5 linked regions of the Homo sapiens genome follow. The protein of the gene in region 1 purifies or fractionates together with the protein of each later gene. This does not show direct contact. Each region holds a gene or a part of one and is shown on either strand. Other genes may lie near its edges. The genes, in order: LNP1, NUDT12, TRPC4AP, PM20D2 and GAN.

Region 1 (5,166 bases):
TGCTTATATTAAGCATGTACATATAGAACAGCTCTATTCTCTTTCAGCTGTCTGATGTTTTCATTCTGTTTTTCCTTACTGAAAAATTACTGAAAAGAATTGTCTACATCTGTTACTTATTTGGCACCCATTTCATCCAAAATCTGTTGTAATCTAGTTTACAACTTTATAATTAGGCTGAAAGTGCTTTAGAAGTCATAAAATTCATTGTGGTTTTTTTGTGGGTGGGGGAGGTTGGCTGTCACCCACTTTTACTTGATACCACTGATTATTCTCTCCTTGAAATGTTCTTTTCCTTGGCTTCAGGAGAATAGAGTCTTCTGGTTCTTCTACGCTCTGACCAAACTCTAGATCAGTGCTGTCCATCACAGCTTTCTATGATGCTGGAAATGATTTATATTTATGATGTCCAATATGGTAGCCACTAGCCACATGTGGCTATTGAGCACTTGAAATGTAGTGTGACAAAGACTACAGTTTTCATTATTTAATTGATTTAAGTAGTATCATGTGGCTAATGACTACCATATTGGACAGCACAGCTCTAGATATTCCTCAAGTGAGGAATTTATTAGAATATGTCTTCTTCTTTATCTTCAATCTCTCCATTAGTAACCAAAGTAAATCTCATTGCTTCAGGTACCATTTCTGTGCAGATAATCACTGTCTATATATCTTTTGGCATAGCTTCCCTTTTTACCTCTAGCCCTATATTTCTTACTACTTACTGAGCAGTTTTGCTTGGATTCCTGACTTTTGTCAAAAATATAACTCATCATTTTCCCCACTCATTCTTTCTCTTTGTGTTATCCTTTTTTTTTTTTTTTTTCCAAGATGGAATTTCGCTCTGTTGCCCAGGCTGGAGTGCAGTGGTGTGATCTCGGCTTACTGCAACCTCTGCCTCCTGGGTTCAAGCGATTCTCTTGTCTCAGCCTCCCGAGTAGCTGGGACTACTGGCGCCCGCCACCACACCTGGATAATTTTTTGTATTTTTAGTAGAGACGGGGTTTCACCGTGTTAGCCAGGATGGTCTCGATCTTCTGACCTCGTGATCCGCCCGCCTCGGCCTCTCAAAGTGCTGGGATTACAGGCATGAGCTACTGTACCCAGCCTGTGTTATCCATTTTTTCTAATAATACCACTATTACCTTAGCAGTTACTCATATTTGAAACCATAGACCTTTTTAGACCTCTCTCTTTTTCATCCTTACCTACCCAAGCACAAATGATTATGCTGTTGTATTTATATACACACATAAACACAAAATCAGCTGTGAAGTCTTCAACAAATTCAACTTTGTTGTAATATCTTTCTTATAGTTTTTTCACCCATTCTGACACTTCTTAGTTCATATAAGTGAAAACTCCTAAGAGTATGTATAACACATAACAGATACTCAATAAATAGTTTCTTCCCATCTTAGTACAGGCTGCTATAACAAAAATATCATAAAACTACTTAGCTAATAAACTATAGAAATTTATTTCTCACAATTCCTGAGGATGGGGGTTTGAGATCAGTGTGCCAGCATGGTCAAATTCTGTAAGAGCCCTATTCTGGGTTGAGGACTGCAAATTTGGTTTGTGTCCTCAAATAGTGGAAAGGGGCAAGAAAGTTCTCTGGAGTCTCATTTTTATAGGGGCACTCATCCTATTTTTAAGGGCTCCATCCTCATGATCTAATCACTTCCCAAAGGCCTCAACTCCTAATACTATTACATTCCCCTCTTTTTTCTCTTTTATTCATTTCCTTCATCTTGCCTAAATCCTATATTTGCTTGCTTCCCAGATAATTTCTCTGCCTCTAGTGCCTCTCTTCTATGTGTCACCCTGCACCTTGATATCAATTTACTCTTCCTATAGCATAACTGTAATTTCACTCTTGAGCTGAAAGACTTTTAAATCCTCTTCACTTTCACTATAAAGTTCAACATTTCTGCCCACCCATGCCTCCCTTCATACACCTCTTCTCTTTCTTTGGTCTACGATATTAGCACCTAGCACTATTAGAAATTACCTATGTGGGCCGGGTGCAGTGGCTTGTGCCTGTAATCCCAACACTTTGGGAGGCCGAAGCGGGTGGATCACCTGAGGTCAGGAGTTCAAGATCAGGCTGACCAACATGGTGAAACCCTGTCTCTACTAAAAATACAAAAATTAGCCGGGCATGGTGGCACATGCCTGTAATCCCAGCTACTCAGGAGGCTGAGGCAGGAGAATCGCTTGAACCCCAGAGGCGGAGGTTGCAGTGAGCCGAGATTACCCTATTATACTCCAGCCTGGGTGACAGAGTGAGATGCCGCCTCAAGAAAAAAAAAACCTCTCAGGTGTACACTTGTCTGTGGGAAAAATAAAAAAATAGTGTGATCCCCTCAATAGGATGTAAGCCCCACGAGGACAGAAACTGTTCATTTTGTACAGCCAGAGCCCAGAATATAGGTGGTGTGATGGGTAATTTCATGTGTCAATTTGACTGGGCCATGGGATACCCAGATACTTGTTTAAACATTATAAATGTGTCTGTGGTGGTGTTTTTGATTGCTTGATTTTTATTTTTTTATTTTTATTTTTTGAGATGGAGTCTTGCTCTTGTTGCCCAGGCTGGAGTGCAATGGCATGATCTCGGCTCACTGCAACCTCCGCCTCCCGGGTTCAAGCGATTCTCCTGCCTCAGCCTCCCAAGTAGCTGGAATTACAGGTGCCCGCCACCATGCCTGGCTAATTTTTGTATTTTTAGTAGAGACGGGGTTTTGCCATGTTGGCCAGGCTGGTCTTAAACTCCTGGCCTCATGATCCGCCTGCCTCAGCCTCCCAAAGTGCTGGGATTACAGGCATGAGCCACTTCGCCTGGCTGATTTTTATTTTTAGTGTATCTATTGTCGGTTTTTGCTTCAAAAAACATAGATATTACAGGTTATTTTAGACTGATAACAAGTTAACTTTGATTATTTACACATACACATGCAAACTACACTTTAACTCCACTTCCTTTCCTCAATATTTTGTGCTTTCAATTTCACAATTTAAGTATTTTTATATTGCATATCCATCAACAAGTTGCTGTAGTTATTAATTTTAATACTTTTATCTTTTAGCCCTACTAAAGATACGTGATTTACACACCCTCATTACAGTATTTAAATGCTACCATTACAGTATCAGAGTATTATAAATTAAATTTAGCTATGTACGTATTTTTGCCAGGGAGTTTTATACTTTCAGATGTTTCTGTGTTTATCATTAGTGTCCTTTCAGCTTGAAGAACACCCTTTAGCATTTCTTGTAAGACAGGTCTGGTGGTGATGAACTCCCTCAGATTTTGTGTGACTAGGAAAGTCTTTATCTCATGTTCATTTCTGAATGACAGTTTTGCTGAGTACAGTATTCTTGATTGACAGTCTTTTTTTTCCTTTAGCACTTTGACTATATCATACCACTCTTCCCTGGCCTGTAAGATTTCTGTTGAGAAATCTGCTGCTAGGCATATTGGAACTGCCGTATATGTTACTTGCTTTTTTTGTCTTGCTGCTTTTAGGATCCTGTCTTTGTCTTAGATCTGTAGAGTTTGATTATAATATGTCTTGTGATAGTCTTATTTGGATTGAATCTAATTGCAAATCTTTGACCTTCCTGTACCTGGCTATTTATATATTTCTCCAGGTTTGGGAAGTTTTCTGCTATTACTGCTTTAAATAAGCCTTTTACACCCTTATCTTTCTCTACTCCCTCTTGAATGCTGGTAATTTGCGTATTTGCTCTTTTGATACTATCCCATAAACCCTATAAAGTTTCTTTATTCCTTTCCACTCTTTTTCCTTTCTTCTCCTCTGTATATTTTCATATAACCTGTCTTCAAGTTTACAGATTCTTTTTCTGATTGATCAATCCTGCTCTTGATGCTCTCTATTACATTTTTACATTCATTGTATTTTTCAGCTCCAAAATTGGTCTGATTTTATTATTTCAATTTATCTGGTAAATTTCTCATCTGACCATTTATTATTTTCCTAATTTTGTTGACTTGTTTCTCTGTATTTTCTGAAGTTCTTTGAGCTTCTTTAAAACAGCTGTTTTGAATTCCTTGGCAGATAGTTGATATATCTGTGTCTTTAGGGTCTATGACTGGCATCTTATTTTGTCTGTTTAGTGATGTCATGATTCCCCGATTGTTCTTGTGGTCATGTGTCAGTGTGTGTGCATTCAAGAAGCAGTTACTTATTCCAGCCCTCACAATCTGGCTTTGTCTGGGAACATCCTCTAACAGTAAGCCTGTCCAGAGATTCTAGGCAGGTCATTTGGTGTGGTCTCCGAGCCTGTGACCACTGCAGCCCTTCCAGCTCTAGGGAGTGCTATGTACTCCCTACTGTGACCAGCACAGTGCCACGCTGAAATCCCGTAGTCACTGAAGCTGACTTAGCACTGGGATGGAATCCTGTGGCTGCTGAGGCTGGTGCAGCACTTGGGTGCACCCAAAGCCCACAGCTGCTGAGGCTACTGCAGCACTGGGGTACATCTGAAGCTTGCAGCCACTGAGGGGGCCTGCCTGTTGCTGTGGGTTATTTGGATCCCAAGACCACTGTAGTTGGCTGATGGTGATGTGGGCTGGAACTCAAGTTTGTCTCACAGGGGCTATGGTTTCCCATCTGCTGCCGGGATGGGTCTAGAGTCTCAGTCTGCAGTTACTGGCCTGAAGTCATGGGTCATGGGGGGGTCTACCCAGTGCTGAGTTTTACTGTGACAGGCCTGGTATTGGGGTCCAAGGCAAAGTCTTACCTTTACTTTCCTCTCTTCCTCCCAAGCAGACAATATCTTTTTCCGGGCTGTGCTGCCTGGTCTTGGGGGAAGGGTGACATGGGTAATGTAAAACTGTTCTTCCTACCTACTTAAATGTGTCTTTTCTTATTATTATGCTATAACCAGGTGCTATAATCTCTCACCTGGTTTCCTTAGCTCTCGTGAAGGTATTTTATACATAGATAGTTGTTCAAATTCATATTTCTCTGTGGGAAAATTGCTGGAGAGTCCTATTCCACCATCTTGCTCTACTTTCCTCTGTGAGAATGTTTTGGATGAGATTGATACTTGAATTGGCAGAGTGAGTAAAGCAGATTGCCCTCAGTGTGGTTGGCCCTCATTCAATCAGATGAGGGCCCAAATAGAACAAAA
Region 2 (3,883 bases), on another chromosome or scaffold:
TCACTAATTAGGTAAATTCACCTTTCACAATTTCTTTTTCCTTATCTATAAAATAAGGAAAGCTAATTTCATATATTATCCTTAAGGTCTCTTGTAGCTCTAGCATACATTAGTAAAGATGCAAATTATACAAATTTTGATATTCATAAACTATAATAGCTATTAAATCAATTTCAAAATAGCCTTTCAAAATGTGACTTTCTATGTTGCAAAATTGTGAACTACTATGTTTTGCTTTCTCTAGAATCTTACTGATTCAGCTCTAAAATATACTTACTTTGTCAAGGCTTCTTAGAATGTGTTGAAATAAGGTCAAAGCCAAGATATATTTGAGCATAATAAATAGTATTGGTAATGATTATACAATTTTTTGTTAACACAGATACATCACTCATCACAAAATGAAATAAAGCCAATGTTTTAAATTAAATATGTAAATCTGCCTGGGACTTATTTAATATCCGACCTTTGAGGAGAATTCCTTTCAAGTTTAATTTCAGTGCAAAAGCAGAGAATCTTGGTTTGTCTTAATAACAGCTTTAGGTATAAGTAACATATAAGTAGATATGTTAATTAATTTTAGGTCTAAAAGAGAGGTCCCAGATATAATAGTATGCTTTTCTCCTTCCATGAGGGTGTGGTATTGAGATCACTATTAAATTATTAAATTAGAAAATTCTTAACACTGGTCAAATTAGACGAGTGGCGACACTATAACACCTCCACTGCTAGAACAATGGAACCCCCAGGAAAGAGCAAGTGGGACTACAATGGGGAGATGAACAAAAACCATATATTGACAACTTAAAGGTAACAAAAGGACTAAAAAATCAATGCCAGCTAACTCAAGCTAATACAAGCTAAAAATTCATTAAAATTACTTTGATTCATTTCTCAAATCAGGAACTTTCTTCATCATCAGTTTAATGCTTACAAGAGGCACTGAAATTTATGCACATTTCTAGAACATCTTTCCAACATGATGTCTCTTATTAGAAAAATGGTTTTGTGAGATAAAACTGTGAAGGAAGAAAAGAAACCAAGAGAGAAAAAGTTCAGAGAAGACTGACCCAAATTTAACATAATCTGAGGCAATATTGTAAAAATGTGTAAAAATATGAATTTGTGATTAAGACAGAACACTTTGAAAATATTTCGAAAACCCAACATCGTATTTTGTGTTGTGACACTCTCAAGAGTACTGAATAATCTCTAATATCACTTGAGGAATGAGTGTTATTAGAAATTATTAAATAATACTCAAAGCTTAGTTCTTAGATTTAGAGATTAGGATTTATTCTAATCCAGTGTTTGATTAATTGATGTGCAATAGCTCGGCTTGGTGGCACAAAGAATGCCTGCTGCTTCCCTTTGGTCAGAACATCCAGGACCTAAAACACACCATAATAGAATGCATTAGGATTTCAAAGCTGTCATATTTAAATACTATTCCCATGTTTACATAATTCAATTAAAATGTGATGAGTTTTACAGTGAATAACAACAGTAGAAAGTGACAACATCCATATTTACATGCAAAGTTTTTTTTTTTTTGGAAACAAGGTCTTGCACTCTGCCACCCAGACTGGAGTTGCAGTGGTGGGATCATGGCTCATTGCAGCTTTGACTTCCTGGGCTCAGGCGATCCTCCTGCCACAGCCTCCCAAGTAGCTGGTACCATAGGTGCACCTGGCTAACTTTTTAAAAATTATCTGTAGAGACAGGGTCTCCCTATGTTGCCCAGGCTAGTCTCAAACTCCTGGGCTCAATCAAGCTTCCTGCCTTGGCCTTCCAAAGTTCTGGGATTACAGGTATAAGCCACCACGCCCCGCCTCAACATGCAAAATTTAGGACAGCATTTTTAATTGCTTCACTGAGTAAGTGATTCAGTTTCTAAAATGTTCCAGAAAGACACATTCCCTTATGAAAATGACATCACGAAAAAGCAAAATGTACGCTCCACACTTAATTTCTAAGCAAAGCCAACTTTTGAAACAGATTCTTTTTTATAAAATTCATAAGCAATAATCTAATTTCCATCTTTTAGGATTAAGCATAGAATAAAATTAATTTTATGCAGGCAAAGTCAGAAAGAATTTCAGGTCAGATGAGTAATTTATCTTTTAATATATTATTTAGGAATGACATTTTAGAAAGTTATTTTAAGTGTATGTTTATTATACAGTTATGTCATTCTTGTCCTTAAGTACATTTTAAAATGAATAAAAACTTTCTGAAAATTTTAAGCACTTACTGATGTTTTTTGAGAGCTACTTGTTTTAATGTTATAAACTAAAATATAAAATGTATAAGAATATTCCTGTTTCTCATCTATGAATTAATGTTTTTCTAAACCCACTGATAGGTATTATTATTTATGTGAAGGAATGGAATCTGAAACTCGAAATGGTACAGAATCATCTCTACTAGAAAAATCTCATAGAATAAGTTAATATAGATCACATTAGTGAAACATACTCCTCCTGTATGGAATTACTAATTACCATGTAATCCATGCATAATGAGAGGGCCAAAGGCATCATTCAACTTGCTGAAAATATGCATCCTTGCTCTGTGACCAAACCAATACAGTCAGGGAACAATCAATAGAAGAAGGAAATTAAATTGAACTTTACCTGTTCTCTAGTGAACCAGCGGGCATCCTCTATTTCATTCTTGTCAACTTTAATTTCTGTAGACACTGCTAGAGCTAAGCAACCAATCATTAAGGAGGAAGGCATTGGCCATGGTTGACAAGCAACATACTGAACATGGCCAACTTTGACTCCACTTTCCTCTTCTACTTCTCTCCTAACAGCATCTTCTATTGTCTCTCCTAATGAAATGGAGCAAAAGAACAAGTTGCTGATGAACATGCCCGGGACACTTTGTGTCCTGAATGGTTCAAACATCTGGAAATCACTTTGGACAGAAACCCAATGCAAATAATCAGAAAGCAGAAGCCTAAAACTAGACTGTAATTGAAGAAAACAATTTTTTTAAAGTACATGACCACATATAGAATATCAAAATGCCAACAATAAACTTTTCGTTTTTTTAAGGTACAAATTTGTCAGTTACATTTTAAAAATAATGATACCATCTAAAAATATCCAATACCTAATACTGGTTAAACACTATGCAAACACTTTATATCTTATCTCATGTATATATTGTCCACGAAATAGTTATAAATTACATGATTTTTACAAATAGCTCTTTCACACTAAAATTCTGAAACTTTTTTTTATTATGTTGTCAAACAATTATTGCAGGTAACTCTTTTCAGGTCATTACAAGATTACAAACTACATAAGATGAAATTTAATACTTTTTCTAAGCAATTATTTTCCTCTAGATGACTGCTGACTCTGCTATGGTAAGTGATGCCTATAAATGTACTTTATATTTCTAATTTGTTGGAATTAAGAATTAGAATAGGGGAAATTGTTTCTAAGTAAAATCATTTCTAAGTAAAATCTGGAAGTTTAGAAACATTTTGCTAAATATTGCTGTATTTAGCAAAATATATTTTAAATATAGCTTTCTATTTCAAATAGATTGATAAATTTCCTACATGAAAATTAACTTATAATAATCAAAAGAACACATATAGTAAAAATATAATTATAGACTAGTGTAAGGTATTTGCAAAACCATAACTAACAAAAGATTAGCATATGCTACATATTTAAGAATTCTTAAAATGAATAAAAAAGGATAAACAATGAAAACAAAACTAGGTAAAAGATAAACATCTAAAATTCAGAGAAAAGAAAACTGAATGCCTAATACACATTTGAAAAAAGATGTTCCATAGGCAAGAAAATGAAAATGAAAACGAGATACGATTTCATTCACTCCTCAGAATGACAAATTTAAA
Region 3 (5,166 bases), on another chromosome or scaffold:
AGAACAACTGGTAGTTCTGAGAATCTCAAAAAGGACTCAAAAAATAATTATTTATTTTAAAATGAATCTCAAAAAATAATGACTTACGCTATCTTCCTGGGGCTCAGATAATTTACATTAGATAATTACATGTAAATTATCTGAGCCCCAGGAAGATAGTGTAAATCATTATTTTTGCTAGACAAGAAAATGACCTCACAGCCACAGTTTATTAAAAACGAAACGAAAACTTTTTGGCAACATCCTACATATTTCAGCTTTCCATACAGTTATGGACTGTGTCCCCACCCCCCGCGCCCCCACAAATTCATACGTTGAAGCTCTAGCCCTAAATATGACTGCGTTTTGAAACAGGCCCTTTAGGGAATGCGGTGGTGTGATGGTTAATTTTAGCTGTCAACTTGACTGGACTATGGGATGCCTACATGGCTGGCACAGCACTGTTTCTGGGTGTGTCTGTGAAGGTGATTCCAGAAGAGATTGGTGTATGAGTGTGTGAACTAAGGGAAAATCTGCCCTCAATGTGGGCAGGCACCATCCAATTGGTGGGGGAGCAGTGGGAGGCGATGGAGGAAAACAAAAAGGGATTCTCCCCCTTCTGGAGTGGGAAGTTTTTCTCCTACTGCTCTTGGATATCAGACTCCAGGATCTTTGGCTTTTGGTCTCTGAGACTTGCACCAGCAGTTTCTGGGGTCCTCCAGCCGGGGAGCTACACCATTAGCTTTCCTGGTTCTAAGTTTTCCGGACTTGGACTGAGCCATGCTAATGGCTTCTCAGGTTCTCCAGCTTGCAGACGGCTTATCTTTTATTTTATTTATTTATTTTTGGAGACGGAGTTTCACTCGTTGCCCAGGCTGGAGTGCAATGGCACAATCTCAGCTCACTGCAACCTCTGCCTCCTGGGTTCAAGCAATTCTCCTGCTTCAGCCTCCCAGGTTGTTGGGATTACAGGCGTGTCACCATGCCCAGCTAATTTTTGTCGCAGATGGCTTATCATGGGACTCCTCCGCCTGTGATCGTGTGAGCCAATTCCCCTAACAAATCCCACCTCATAAATCCTACTGCTTCTGTCTCTCTGGAGACTGCTGCCTAATACAGGGAAGTAATTAAGGTTAAATGAGGTTACAAAGTGTGGGGCCCTAAACCGAGAGGACTGGTGTCCTTCTAAGAAGAGGAAGAGACACCAGAGATCTCCGTCTCTCCTCAATGACAGAGAGGAAAATTCATATGTGGATACAATAAAAAGGTGGCCTTCTACAAGCCAGGAAGAAAGGCCTCAACCAGGAACCAATCCTGACAGCACCTTGATCTTGGACTTCTAGCCTCCAGAACTGTGAGAAAAATAAATGTCTGTTAGTTAAGCCACCTAGTCTACGGTACCTTGTTATGGCAGCTCAAGCTGACTGATACACACACCTGAGATAAAGGCATTCACTACTGGAGCGCAATTCAAGAATGATAACATTCAGAGGACTAAGACTTTCCTCATCCACTCGTGATTTAATTATGTCCACCAGCTTGGCCTTCCCAGGGCATTTGAATGGAGAAAATCGTGCGGGTAAGGGAATGGAGTAGGAATTATGGTCAGGGTTGGGAAGGGTCAGATCCTGCACAACCTCATGTGTGGAACTACAACTTTTAGGCTTTATCCCAAAAGCTACAAGCAGAATCACACATAGACTGTCTACTAGGCTAGTCACACAGATATGAAAGTGAATCTAGATTATTTTATAGAGACTTTAAGAAAAAACTCCCAAATAAAAAAACAAAAACAAAAACTGGGCTTTCCGTTCTCAGTTAATCAAAAAAGCCCAGCTGACCAGAACAGTTCATTCCTCAAGAATAATGGGTAATGCTGGTTTTACTTAAGTCAGTTTACAAATAGGCATCTGAAAGCAATCAATACTAACAGGATCAAAATCATCTGCCAGAATAGATTCCTTAAATGGGAAACTAAAAGATGAAAGTTACTTAGTGCCTCGGCATACACAGGCATCCAATACAGAACCTTTCTAGCCCTCAGTTTCCTCACATGTGCAATGGGGATACTAATCTCTATTCCACAGGGCACTTGAAGGATTAAATAAAATCACTTCTAGGTAAAGCAGTTACCCAGCGTTTGCCACATACCAGGAGCTTAGCAAATACTACCTTTTGTCAATGTATATGGAGGTGTGTACACCAGCTCTGAGGTATAATTTAGTTATAATGAAAGTCACTTTTTTTAAAATTATACTTTAAGTTCTAGGGTACATGTGCACAACGTGCAGGTTTGTTACATATGTATATATGTGCCATGTTGGAAAGTCACATATTTTTTAAAAATGTAAATTTCCTAAAATGAGAACTCCCCCAAAATCATAAAGGAGTGGGAAGAAAACCGTACACAGACCAAGGAAGACCTTGTATCTAGTGACACAGGAGGAAAAGCAAATCTAGAGAGAGAATAAACTGGGGTTGGAGTCCACAAACTTCTACCTTTACATATGACTACAACATGTAAAATTATATTCCCTAATAACCTACAAAGTATAGTTATGATCACCTCATGTTCCTAACTAAAACTAGACAATAACAGAGTGAATGGCAGGTTCATATTCAGCCTCAGGAGAGGAGGCTGCTCTGAAGCACTTGATAACTCTGCAGAGCCAGCCTGGGGAATGCACACAACTGGACTTTAGAAACAAAGAACTGTTTTCAGAGCATGATTAGGGCTACCTCTGCATGGTCATGGTTTTCTACTGCTGCTTTTTAATGATACATTTGTATAATTTTACCTTGTTTATTTGGTGTACCATAAGGTACACAGTGATAGGTTTTTGTATTAACAATATTTCCAGCCTGTTAACATTGAAAAACTAGCTTTTAAGACACAAGTTTCAGTTCAAATATGAATTATCTACACTCTTATGACCAAAATACATCTATGCCAGTTTCTCCAAAATCTGTGCAGGCAACAACATTTTAGATAGAACACAGTTCTTTTGCTACTGAACAGAAATAGGTGGGCTAGATTGGTTAGAATAGTGTTTTGTTTTTAAGTAATATATTTACACGGTTCTAAAATCAAACAATATATGAAAGTATACAGTAAGGAGTCCCACTCCCACTGCTACTACCTTCCCTTACCAGCTACTTCCTATTAATAACCACTTTATGTTTCTTGTGTACCCTTTGTTTCTTTAGGCATACCATATATGTGGGCAAACGTATGGTCTTATTCTCCCCCTGACTTAATACAAAAACTATACCATATACACACTGTTCTGTATTTTCCTCTTTATCATTAATATATCTTGGAGATTTTTCTATAGCAGTACATAGAGATCTTCATTTTTTCAAAGCTACACAATTTTCCATTATATAAATATTGAATACACTAAGCAGTCCAGTGTTAATGAACATCTGGGTTTCTAGTCTTTTGTTATTACAAATAATGTTGCAATGAATAATTTTTTTTTTTTTTTTTGAGACGGAGTCTAATTATGTCGCCCAGGCTGAAGTGCAGTGGTGCAATCTGGGCTCACAGCAACCTCTGCCTCCTGGGTTCAAGCAATTATCCTGCCTCAGCCTTCTGAGTAACTGGGACTACAGGCGTGCACCACCACACCCAGCTAATTTTTGTATTTTTAGTAGAGATGGGGTTTCGCCATGTTGGCCAGGCTGGTCTCAAACTCTGAACCTCAAGTGATCCTCCTGCCTCGGCCTCCCAAAGTGCTGGGATTACAGGCGTTAAGCCACCGTGCCTGGCCTCAGTGAATAATCTTGTACAGTAGTCCTCCCTTAGTCAAGACCCTCACAGTGGATACCTGAAATGGCAGATAGCACCAAACCCTATATATACTATGTTTTTTCTTATATACACACATAACTATGATAAAGCTTAATTTATAAATTAGGTACACTAAGAGATTAACAATAACTAATGATAAAATAGAACAATTGTAACAAGATGCTGTAATAAGAGTTATACGAATGTGGTCTCTCTCTGGAATTTTTCAGTTAATATTTTCGGATTGCAGTTGACCACGGATAACTGAAACCACAGAAAGTGAAACTGCAGACAAGAGGAGATTAGTGTCTATACATCATTATCTATAAAATGAAGGCCCAGGAGAGACTTAGTAGATCAAAAAGTATATGCATTTGTAATTCTGATAAAAAGTAGTTCTTAACTTTTTTTGTGGTTCTGAGCCCATTAACAAATCTAATGAAAGGTATGGAACTCAGTTCCCAAAATAATGAACAGATACACAAAATTTACATACTAGGAGCCTTCACATGGATCCATCTCTAGAGATATTTAAAAGGGGTGCTAGGTGTGGTGGCTCACACCTGTAATTCTAGCACTTCGGGAAGATGAGGTGGGTGGATCACTTGAGACCAGGAAGTCAAGACCAGCCTGGGCAACATGGCGAAACCCCATCTCTACAAAAAATACAAAAATTAGCCCGGTGTGGTGGCACCTGCCTATAGTTCCAGCTACTCAGGTGGCTGAGGTGGGAGGATCACCTGAGCCTGGGGAGGTCAAGGCTGCAGTGAGCCACGATTGTGCCACTGCACTCCTGCCTGGGTGACATAGTGACGATCCCATCTCAAAAAAGGAAAAAAAAAAAAAAAGAAAAGAAAAGAAAAAGAAAAAAAACTAGATGATTTAGTAAGGGCCTCAGAGCTATAATCTCAAAATTCTGAGAACTTGGAGACTTTACCTTGATTGATTTCAGCTGCAGAAGGCCCCAAACTCAAGCTCTTCTTCTGTTGAGCATTTTTGGCAAGAAGCGTGTGCTTGTCATCATTCCCTGTATCCATCTCTGAAATGGTGACAGCCAGAATCCGGCAGAAATTAGCGAGCTGCTGCTGATCGAAATTGGATACTAAGGAACTCAGATTGGGGACTTCATCTAGTCGGATCATTTCCTACAGAAGACAAAAATGAAACAATCCCCATGCTCAATTCACTCAAGAGATTGGATGTGCCTCTCTTTCGCATCCCCTTACATACGGGGCTTAGTGGCTAGATCACTTAGGTTCCTATCCCAGCTCTGTAACTTGCAGCTCTGAAACTTTGGTTAAGTTACAAAAACCTTTCGAGTCTTTGCTTGTTTATCTGTAAAACGGAACTAATCTACCTCACAGGATTAGTCTGAGGACTAAATTTACCTTTTG
Region 4 (5,166 bases), on another chromosome or scaffold:
ATATGTGACAAAGAGTAGCTAACATTTATCTGGAATACTACGTTCCAAACACAATCCTAAGTGCTTTGTATGTATTCTCATTAATATTTAGAACAGTTTCCATTTTAAACATGAAGAAACCAAGGCTTATGGGTATTAAATAACATGCCGATAGTCTCACAGCTGCTAGTTATGTGGTAAATGCAGACTGAGGCCAGACTTTGAGGCATAGTAGCCTCTATAGAAGTACTGCTTCAGAAAATATTCACTAAGCACTTAACTGTGCCAGAAACGGCTCCACACACTGAGGATGCACAGTAATGGGACATCAGTGAACAGGATGGAAAAAGCCTCTCCAGTGTTTAAAGAGTCTAAAGAGTCTGAGTGTAAAAACAAAACAAAACAAAAAAGGATGGACAAAAAAAAACCTGTTGCATATTTTAAGATCTTACTTGTGGAACTAGACCCTAGAGCCCACAAATCATACCAAAATCACAGCCACTTTATCCTACTGTTTTGTCCATTATATAAAACCCAAACCCGGGGTAGAGCAGGCCATGTGTCTTCCCTTCTTCAGCTAGACAGCAGAAACCTGCTAGGGTAAAAGAACAGAACCATGCTGAGCTGAGCTTTCTTGCTGTCCAGAACAAAAGAAAACATGAAACTCTGATGTCCCTGGACAACTCCTCTCAGTGGCAATTCTCTCTCAATCCCTCAGCCCTACCAGCTCAATGCTCACTGTGTGCTACTTCCTAGAGGGAAAGTCTCTGAACTCCCTGACCTCCTTCCTAAACATTACATCTACTTCTCAAGTATCTTCCCTTAAAAACTATTTTCTTTTCCGTATTTCCCTCAAGCTTGTATCCACTCTTTCTATTTTCCTTGAAAGCTAACTCTCTTGAAAAAGAATAGTCTTCATTTGCTACTTCCACTATCTCAGCAGTCAATGCCCTGGGTAGAGAAGTGAGACCCAGCATCTGGTACCACTGGTCTTATACTATTTTCTTCCAGACAATTCATGAATTTCTAATTACTAGAGTCCAGTGGACACTAGACCATATTCATCTTATTCAGTCTCTACAGCACTTGACATGATTTATGCCTCCTTCTCTTCTGTAAGTTTTCTTCTCCCTTGGCTTCCATGACTTCTCCTCTCTCCTGATTGTCTGGCTTTCTCTCTGACCACTTCGTTGACTGCCAATGTCTGATCTCTGGGAATCTTCTTCCTCTATGTATTTGGGCAACCTCATCGACATCTATGTCTTCTATATACCTTTCATATATGGACAACTCCTAAATCTCCAAACTAGACATCTTTTTGGGTTCTAGATTTAACAGGTACTGAACAGCTCCACTTAGAAATACTATAAGCACCTCAAGTTTAACATACTAATAATTTATAACAACCCCCTCTTACCCTAACCTGCTCTTTCTCTTGAACTCCTTATCTTAATGAATGACACCGACACCCCATTTTCACCACCAAGTCCTTTTGGGCCTACTTCAACAACATCTATTTTTAAAACAGATGATACATCTCTAACTTGCAAATGTATTAGTAATAATATGCTTTTAAAAGGAAAAAAAAACTAACATAACCCCAAATATGCTTATTTCAATTCTAGCTGTCTGTTGCTCCTCAGAAACTGAAAATGCCCCAGATAACTAAGTACTTAGTAACCTGCTTATTGTGATGACTGAGAATGAATTAAAATTCTATATCCCACCTTAGCAACTTACTTAAAAATTAAAACTAACGAAACTTAAACACTAGAAAATATTTAGAATACAGACAAAAATGTAGGTTGACTATTTCTAAAATCAAGTCTGCTCGTTTGACATTCTACACTCACTTAAGAGTCCATTAGTTTCTTTCCCCTAACCATAAAGTTTGTGAAAATATTAAAAACGTCAGTAGTACCTCCCGACCTCCCAAACCATTAAATACAACCAATTTAACCAAAGATGGTATTTCTCTTCCTCAAATAGCTCAATATATAAAAAAACACTTAATTACCTGAAGGGCCATTCAACATTGTATCTTCTGAAATGAACTCTATTCCTAGCTTTCTTCCATTTTCCATATAGGCTTTCCATAGGCTCTTATTGGGAAGAACATTGTAATAATCATGTGCTCCACCTTTAATTTCCACCTAATAAAAAATTGCAAAACAAATTTTGAAATAAAAAACTCAAATTCACTATCTAATTTTCAAACCAGTGATTGTTCTCTAATAGGAAGAGGTTTTAAGAGAAGATACTTTCCCTTCCAGATATAAACACTCTCAAATCTCTTACCTTAAAAAAGAAAAAAGATTTATTTTCTATAACGAGAGTTCCTAGGACTCTCTTTTATGCTATATATACACTAAACCCCACAATGTCACCAAGCTCTATACTAGCTACCAAGTGTCAACTTCAGTCACCTAGATAGGGTATGAGAAGGGCCCAGAAATTTTTATTTTATTTTTGAGATGGAGTCTCACTCTGTTGCCCAGGCTGGAGTGCAGTGGTGTGATCTCAGCTCACCACAACCTCCGCCTCCCAGGTTCAAATGATTCTCCTGCCTTAGCCTCCCAAGTAGCTGGGATTACAGGCGCCTGCCACCAAGCCCAGCTAATTGTTTTTGTATTTTAGTAGAGATGGGGTTTTGCCATGTTGGCCAGGCTGGCCTCAAACTCCTGACTTCATGTGATCTGCCCGTCTCGGCCTCCCAAAGTGCTGGGATTACAGGCATGAGCCACTGCACCCAGCCTAATTTTTATTTTAACCAGCACCTCAAAGTAATTCTGACATAGGTGACCCAAAAACCACACTCTGAGGAACACTGCTCTAGGATTCAGTCTCCAAAAAAAAGAAATTAAGCTTTACTAATATTCAATATGCAAACTGACACTGACATCACTGCCTGGTGTGAGAGGTAGAAAAGTACTCTGAGGGAAATGTAGAAGATTTGCAATGAGGAAGGGTTGACAACAGTCCTCATTTATTAATTTCAGTATATAAAGATACGGAAGCAGCTTTTATGTGCCCAGTTAAGTGGATTTACAGATTCAGTTTTGATTAAATAAAAATTGGCAATATTCCCTCAAACCAATATTAGCAAAAGCCAATCATAAAATGGCAGAGATGACATTTCTTTTATTCTTAGCAACATCTACGGTAGAAATTATGACAACCAAATCAGACCTTACAAGTCAGCCAAAATATAAGAAATTACTAAAAGATTATTTAAAATATAGATTTAGGCCAGGCAAGGTGGCTCACACCTGCAATCCCAGAACTTTGGGAGGCCAAAGCACGAGGATCACTTGAGCCCAGGAGTTTGAGACCAGCCTGGGCAACACAGGGAGAGCCTATCTCTACAAAAAACTTTAAAAATAAATAAATTAAATTAAATATAGATTCAAATCCAATAACAACAAACCTTACCATAAGGGAATACTGTATACCTTGAGATATTGCCTAATGATAATAGTTCACATCCATAAGTATTTCACAAATAAATATTTATAATTATAAATGAATAAGGGAATAAATATTTAGTTTTTACTGCCCTCAGCTATGGACATTTCACAGTTTTCATTCACTATAACCATCTTCTCTAGTGGCATATGAGAATACATCTTTGCTCCTACATCTGTCCATATGTTTATCGATTAACTACAACACAACACGAGCTTCTATATTCTTATCTTTGCTGACTATATTCCCTAAGAACTTTCAGTCTCTGTCTTTCCCATGCATATCTGAAAGTATGATCAACCTTCAAAGCTCAGTTCAGGTCTACAGTCTTCCACAAAACCTTCCTCCAAGGTTAACAGCCCCAGACCACTCTTTCCCACCTCTGATCCTCACGACACATTCCACACTACTCTCAGGACACGTAACATATGCTTTCTGAGAATTACTGCTACTGTGAGATACTGCTACTACGTGAATCAATCATACATCTCTAGACTAATAAGAACAGAAAAAAATAAGGCAATATAAATGAAGGCTGGGCTCTAAACCCTTCAGAAACATTATCTCATTTAATTCTCACAAGAATCCTAAGATAAATTGTTATTATCTCCATTTTTCAAGCAAGAAAATGGAGAGCCAAAGACACTAAACATTTCTAAAGGTTACAGAATTAGCTAGGCTGAGAGTTATGGGTCAAGATCTTGTCTCTCCAACTAGACTACAGGCTCCCTCTAGGGCAAGATTCTTATCTTGTATAATTCTAAAACTCACTCCACTTTACACAGTACATGATTTTAAATACTAACTTTATAGTTCAAATCAACAAAACCAGTCAGTGTGGTGGCTCACACCTGTAATTCCAGCACTTTGGGAGGCTGAGGTGGGTGGATCACAAGGTCAGGAGTTCGAGACCAGCCTGGCCAACATGATGAAACCTCGTCTCTACTAAAGATACAAAAAAATAGCTGGGTGTGGAGGCAGGCGCCTGTAATCCCAGCTACTCAGGAGGCTGAGGCAGGAGAATTGTTTGAACCTGGGAGGCAGAGGTTGCAGTGAGCTGAGATTGCGCCATTGCACTCCAGCCTGGGTGACAGGGCAAGACTCCGCCTCAAAAAAAAAAAAGAAAAAAAAAAATTAGCCAGGTGTGGTGGCAAGCGCCTGTAGTCCCAGCTACTTGGAAGGCTGAGGCATAAGAATCGCTTGAACCCAGGAGGCAGAGGAGGTTGCGTTGAGCCAAAATTGCACCACTGCGCTCCAGCCTGGGCAATAGAGCAAGACTTTGTCTCAAAAACAAACAAACAAACAGAAACAAATCAATAAAACCTCTTAACTAACTTCTGTGTCTATTTTATCTTCCATTCCAGCAAGCCATAGTATTTATATCACTACTATACACACCCTAACTTCAGAAATGGCTTTCGCTGGCTGGGCGAGGTGGTTCATGCCTATAATCCCAGCACTTTAGAAGGCCGAGGTGGGTGGATCACTTGAGCTCAGGAGTTTGAGACCAGCCTGGGCAACATGGTGAGACCCTGTCTCCAGAAAAACATACAAAAAATTAGCCACGTGTGGTGGTGCGTGCCTGTAGTCCCAGCTACTCAGCTGGCTGAGGTGGGAGGCAGAGGTGAGAGGATTGCTTCAGCCTGGAAGGCGGAGGTTGTAGTGAGCCAAGATCGTGCCGCTGCAACTCCAGCCTGGGCAATAGAGCAACACCCTGTCCCC
Region 5 (5,166 bases), on another chromosome or scaffold:
CCCTTGCTGCGGCTGGCTGAGCGGTATATTGCTACACTCTTTGACAATTTCTCGTACTAATGGTTCATTCAGCATCTGTTCCCGTAAATAACTGGAGTCCAACCCTGAAACCCACAGAGCTGACATAACATCCTTCATGTGGACCTGCAGAAGAGGGAAGAAAGATGGGGCGAAAACAATGGAAAATGCAACACATCATTTTTAGAATCTACATTTTCCACCTCATGGAAAACAAACTGTTAACACTCAGGTTATTACCAGGCAAGTGAGACACACTCGTGCTGCTTGAATATCTTCTCCTGGCCCTAACTGTCTACTTCCCAGAGTCTTGATAAGTAAAAGTTTAATTTTTAAAAATCATCAGTTTATTTGAGGTATCACTGTAAAAGTTTCAAGCAGCTTCCTTTACACCTTAAAGGATTCCCATTTCAATAGGAAAAGACAGGAAAAGAACCAGCTATAATTTGCTTTATTTCACACATTTGGATGTGCCATGAGTTAAATCATGTTTATACAAATATTATATACAGTAATAGCTCAATACAATATGGTAAACTTAGACATCAACATTAATAATACAAGAAAAATATACAAAAGCCAAAGTTTAAAAAAAAACCTGAGTACTATATAATCATTTTTGCAGTAATTACTGTTCAAAAATATCTAAGACGACTAATATGAATTTACACTTTTACTGCTCAATCACTAAATTTGAACTGACGAAAGTATTTTATAAATGTAAAATAAAACTGTGAGTTTTAAAAATCAACTGTCTTTACAGCATGAAGTTTAAACTGACCAAAGGACAAAGAACTGCCTCGTTTTCCCAGCAACCAGCCAACCTTAAGCATCTCCCTTGCTTTAAGGCAAGAAGAGGGCAGGACGGAAGCTGGCAAGGAGCAGCATGTCCCACTGTGGTCTTGGTGAGTGGGAGCACATAGGAAATTTTTCTCATTTTTCTATCTCCTTTACCAATTTCCCCAACTAACATGGAAAGCAGAACACTACCTGTCCTTACCTGTCCCAATTAAAACCAATACTACAAATATGGTTTCTAAACATGCATACTTATGGGCTTACAGAATTCAAAAAATTATAAGATAATCATCAAAATTTAACAGTCCAGTTTTAACTTACAAGAACAATTAACAGTAAAATTATACATTGTGAGATCCACTCTCTAACACCTAATATATTTCTTATTTTGAAAACAGTAATTGGAGCTAGTGTCTTATTTATAATAATCAGACTTAAAAATGAAGTCCTGGCTGGGCATGGTGGTTCACACTTGTAATCCCAGCACTTTGGGAAGCTAGAGTGGGAGGATTGCTTGAGCACAGGAGTTTGAGACCAGCCTGGGCAGCACAGCGAGACCCTGTCTCTACAAAAATCAAACAATTAGCTAGGCATGGTGGCACACGCCTGTGGTCCTAGCTACTCGGAGGCTGAGGTGGGAAGATCACTTCAGCCAGGAAGGTTGGGACTGCAGTGAGCTATGATCGTGCCACTCTGGCTACTGCCCTTCAGCCTGGGAGACAGACTGAGACTCTCTGCCCCCTCAAAACCCTCAAGTCCTGTGATTTTGCTCCTTCCTCCAAGGTATTCACAATTTGGATCTAGAGGCTGATATTCTTTAAGACCTTCACTCCCAGAACCTTCCCTCTTGAAACTGCACTGCCACACAAACTCCAGAGCCTGCCTGCTTTCTCCTGCGTGGTGTCAATCACACCTGAAGCTCCTCAGGCCCATGCCCCTCCACCCCTGCCATCGATCCACGTGCCACCCCCCTGCCTGCTGCAGGCACCTGAGGCCTGGCAGAGGTTAGCCTAGTGATATAGTAGGTCAGGATGCTGAGAGCAAGGGTGGGGATACTGCGTTTCTATAATCTCCAGCTTAAGCTTGAAATGCATTTTCCCATTAAAAACAACATACAAAGGATATTACGCTCCTTACAAGGGCTAATATTTTCACTGATATATTGTGTGGCATGGGCTTTTGCAGACTGGTCTGAAAAACCAACTGCTTTCATGATATAGGGGAACATGTTTTACAGGTATCTTTTAGATTGCTGCATCGTAAGTCTTTCATGATGAAGAAGAAAAATAAAACAACTAAAATTTGAATTAAAAAGAAATAAAAAGGCAAATTTGACCATGTTATAAATGACAGGTACCTTTCTTATTTCTGTATCATGTGCTATCCATCGAATTACTGCTTCAAAGACATATCTTTCATTGCCAACGTTTAACTTCTCAAGAGAAATCACTTCTTTAAGCTTTTGAGGACTCAGCTCTAAGAATTCTTCCGTGCTGCTGACGTCTCGGAAATGAGTCTCCAGGTATTCTGTGGCAAGGTAATGAACGTGATGGAGGCAGTAATGTAGTGCAAAGTCACGGATACCAATACAGTTCTCAGCAGCAATGCAGCCTTCCAAAAACTCACAGCACAGGGTTTTAAGGTCCGTCAGTAGCAGCAGGTCAGCTGCCTGAACAACATCTTGGATTGTATCTTCATTTAGCCTGATCTAAAAAAGTAGCATAATTATCTTATATTTGAATGTGTACATTTAAAACCCAAACCACTAACCTATTAATTGGGGCCACATGAAATTTCCATTTATTTTAGATCAAAGATAATCGAATATTGGCAATTTCATATGGTTTAACCCAGCATTTTTTTTTTTTTTTCCAAGAGTTGGAAGGCACCAACATAAGCAAATGTGTGCTTGGTTAACTTTTCCCAGCTCTGCCCTTGCTGTACCAATGTCAACCACCAATAACCCTTTTAGGGTGAACTGTCCATGTTGTTCACTTCTGTAATTCAGAGAAAAACCTTAATGACTCAAATGCTTGGGAAATGGAAAGTTCTACATTCTATGGTAAAGTCAACATGATTAAGTACCAGCATCAGAACTGATGAAAATCTTGCCTCCCCACCTATGAAGTTCACTCTTCCGCTAAATGGCATGCCAACCTGAATGCTAACCCCTTGAAGGGAGAGGGGTTTCCAGTGTTTCAGAAGCCTCATTCCGCATCCCAAAACACTGTACGCAGTGCAATTTGGTACACAGACAGATACACTTAGGTCTCAAAACTACTTTTTGGAATAAATCCCTAATACAAGGGTGTTTTTTTTTTCTCATTATGAACATCTACTTTTCCTTAATTTTCTTCAATTTTCTGACTAATGCTTCTTCCTCCACTGACTTCACAGTGCTCCAAAGCATCAGGAAAGAAACAGTTCTCTAAAATATTGCCACAGTCCTAAGTGGACGACCCCAAAGCATGGGCACTTCACCCACATTCGCAAATGCAAGGGAGACTTCATGAGGAGTATAGCAAGAAACATTTTTACATTTTACACTTTTTGTACCACAGATTTTTAAAAAAGTATAATTGCCAATCATCTTAGAAACTGAGCAACAAAAATGTGGAAAGTAGTATGGTGAGTAAGCCACAAGTAGGGGAAAATGTTCCATTTATATGACATTATATTTAGCCACAAGACAGCAGGCAGCTGTAGACTCTTCAAATATAGGCACGTGAAAAAAACACTCAACTGCATTTCAATAAAACAAAACTGCCAATTCAGGAGTTTGTTATAACTTACATTCCAACTATCGTTTTTTTTTTTTTTTGAGACGGAGTCTCGCTCTGTCGCCCACGCTGGAGTGCAGTGGCGCAATCTCGGCTCACTGCAGGCTCCGCCCCCTGGGGTTCACGCCATTCTCCTGCCTCAGCCTCCCGAGTAGCCGGGACTACAGGCGCCCGCCACCTCGCCCGGCTAATTTTTTGTATTTTTAGTAGAGACGGGGTTTCACCGTGTTAGCCAGGATGGTCTCGATCTCCTGACCTCGTGATCCACCCGCCTCGGCCTCCCAAAGTGCTGGGATTACAGGCGTGAGCCACCGCGCCCGGCCCCAACTATCGTTTTAAATTTAAATTGGGAACAAATCACAGAACTCAATCTGTAAATAATGTTTCAACTTTCAAATCCAAGCCTGAACATGAATAGGCTCTTACTGGCTTATAACTCATTATACTAATAACTGCTGCTGGATTGACTTTACAAGGTGGAGGAGAGGTTGGTCTTAGCCCTGGTTATGTGATGCTACAGAGCATCTCTGGGCTGTCCCCAGATTAACTTAAATTCATTTACTTTTAACAATCATACACGTACACACCCACCCACTAGTGCTGAGAGAAGAGAGAAAGCATGAAATCAAACCAAAACCTTCAAAAAGGATGAGAATCACTGCGTTTAACTCTGGACAGAATGAATATATTTAGATAAAGAAAGCAATACATTCAGAATACTTAGAAAATATGTAAGACAAACAGCCCCTACAGAAAGGAAAACAAGAGGGATAAAGAAAGAATAAAGGAGAGAGTAGGGAACAAGATCTCAGAAAGAATAAAGATGAAATGCATTCTCACACAGCCAAAGGTAAGATGCACTGACCTCTTCCTTCTGTTAAAAAAACAAAACAAAAAACTAGCCCTGATTCACACGGAAGATTTTTCTTGAGTCCTCATGCTTTGCTTGAAATCACGTCATGGGGAATGGGTAGTCGGAGGAGGGCAAAGGAAAAGAAAGAAGTCTGATCGTTTATCATTCTCCTCCCTGGGTATCACAAAGTCCCCAGAGGTTCAAGTGGACATGGAGAGGGAAGAGAGAATAAGGGTGGGGCAGGGATGTGGGTACTACTGAGGCAACAGGACCAGGGCATCGTGAATAAGGTGCTTGTCATGTCTGTCAGTCATCTTTCTCTGGGAATGATCTACAAGGAACTCTCTATTTCTACCAAATAATCCACAACGCCCCAGGAAGTTCCTATTTCCATGCTATGGAGACAAAACAAGTTTTGTATCCCCAGTCATATGGATACAAAGCAAGACTGGAATCGGGATTCCAAAGCAAAAACCAAAAACACAGCAGTCAGGGCAGCATCCCATGTTCTTTAATATCTCATATGAGAAGGTGGAGCTCAGAATGGTAGCAACAAACTGAGATTTGAGTCTAAGATCTTACTTCCTCTGCTTCTCTAGGAGCACAGCCATGGAAGAACACACATGGGGTGCCATTACCAGTAGGAAATGTCAGTCAATGCACACAGTGACAGAAGATGAAGATGACAGTGCTACTTTGTCATATAATGGATGAAAG

The links.
Region 2: the proteins of LNP1 (region 1) and NUDT12 purify together in Homo sapiens (affinity purification with mass spectrometry; one large-scale study listed by BioGRID and IntAct). This does not show direct contact.
Region 3: the proteins of LNP1 (region 1) and TRPC4AP purify together in Homo sapiens (affinity purification with mass spectrometry; one large-scale study listed by BioGRID and IntAct). This does not show direct contact.
Region 4: the proteins of LNP1 (region 1) and PM20D2 purify together in Homo sapiens (affinity purification with mass spectrometry; one large-scale study listed by BioGRID and IntAct). This does not show direct contact.
Region 5: the proteins of LNP1 (region 1) and GAN purify together in Homo sapiens (affinity purification with mass spectrometry; one large-scale study listed by BioGRID and IntAct). This does not show direct contact.

What each region holds. Positions count from the first base shown.
Region 1 is NC_000003.12:100,403,980-100,409,145, forward strand, and holds part of LNP1 (leukemia NUP98 fusion partner 1), read left to right. Parts: intron 1-5,166.
Region 2 is NC_000005.10:103,549,581-103,553,463, forward strand, and holds part of NUDT12 (NAD-capped RNA hydrolase NUDT12), read right to left. Parts: intron 2,837-3,883; coding exon 2,637-2,836; intron 1,392-2,636; coding exon 1,281-1,391; 3' UTR 1-1,280. UniProt on the Homo sapiens protein: mRNA decapping enzyme that specifically removes the nicotinamide adenine dinucleotide (NAD) cap from a subset of mRNAs by hydrolyzing the diphosphate linkage to produce nicotinamide mononucleotide (NMN) and 5' monophosphate mRNA.
Region 3 is NC_000020.11:35,039,796-35,044,961, forward strand, and holds part of TRPC4AP (short transient receptor potential channel 4-associated protein), read right to left. Parts: intron 4,918-5,166; coding exon 4,710-4,917; intron 1-4,709. UniProt on the Homo sapiens protein: Substrate-recognition component of a DCX (DDB1-CUL4-X-box) E3 ubiquitin-protein ligase complex required for cell cycle control.
Region 4 is NC_000006.12:89,155,291-89,160,456, reverse strand, and holds part of PM20D2 (xaa-Arg dipeptidase), read right to left. Parts: intron 2,133-5,166; coding exon 1,997-2,132; intron 1-1,996. UniProt on the Homo sapiens protein: Catalyzes the peptide bond hydrolysis in dipeptides having basic amino acids lysine, ornithine or arginine at C-terminus. Postulated to function in a metabolite repair mechanism by eliminating alternate dipeptide by-products formed during carnosine synthesis.
Region 5 is NC_000016.10:81,351,763-81,356,928, reverse strand, and holds part of GAN (gigaxonin), read right to left. Parts: intron 2,525-5,166; coding exon 2,174-2,524; intron 145-2,173; coding exon 1-144. UniProt on the Homo sapiens protein: Probable cytoskeletal component that directly or indirectly plays an important role in neurofilament architecture.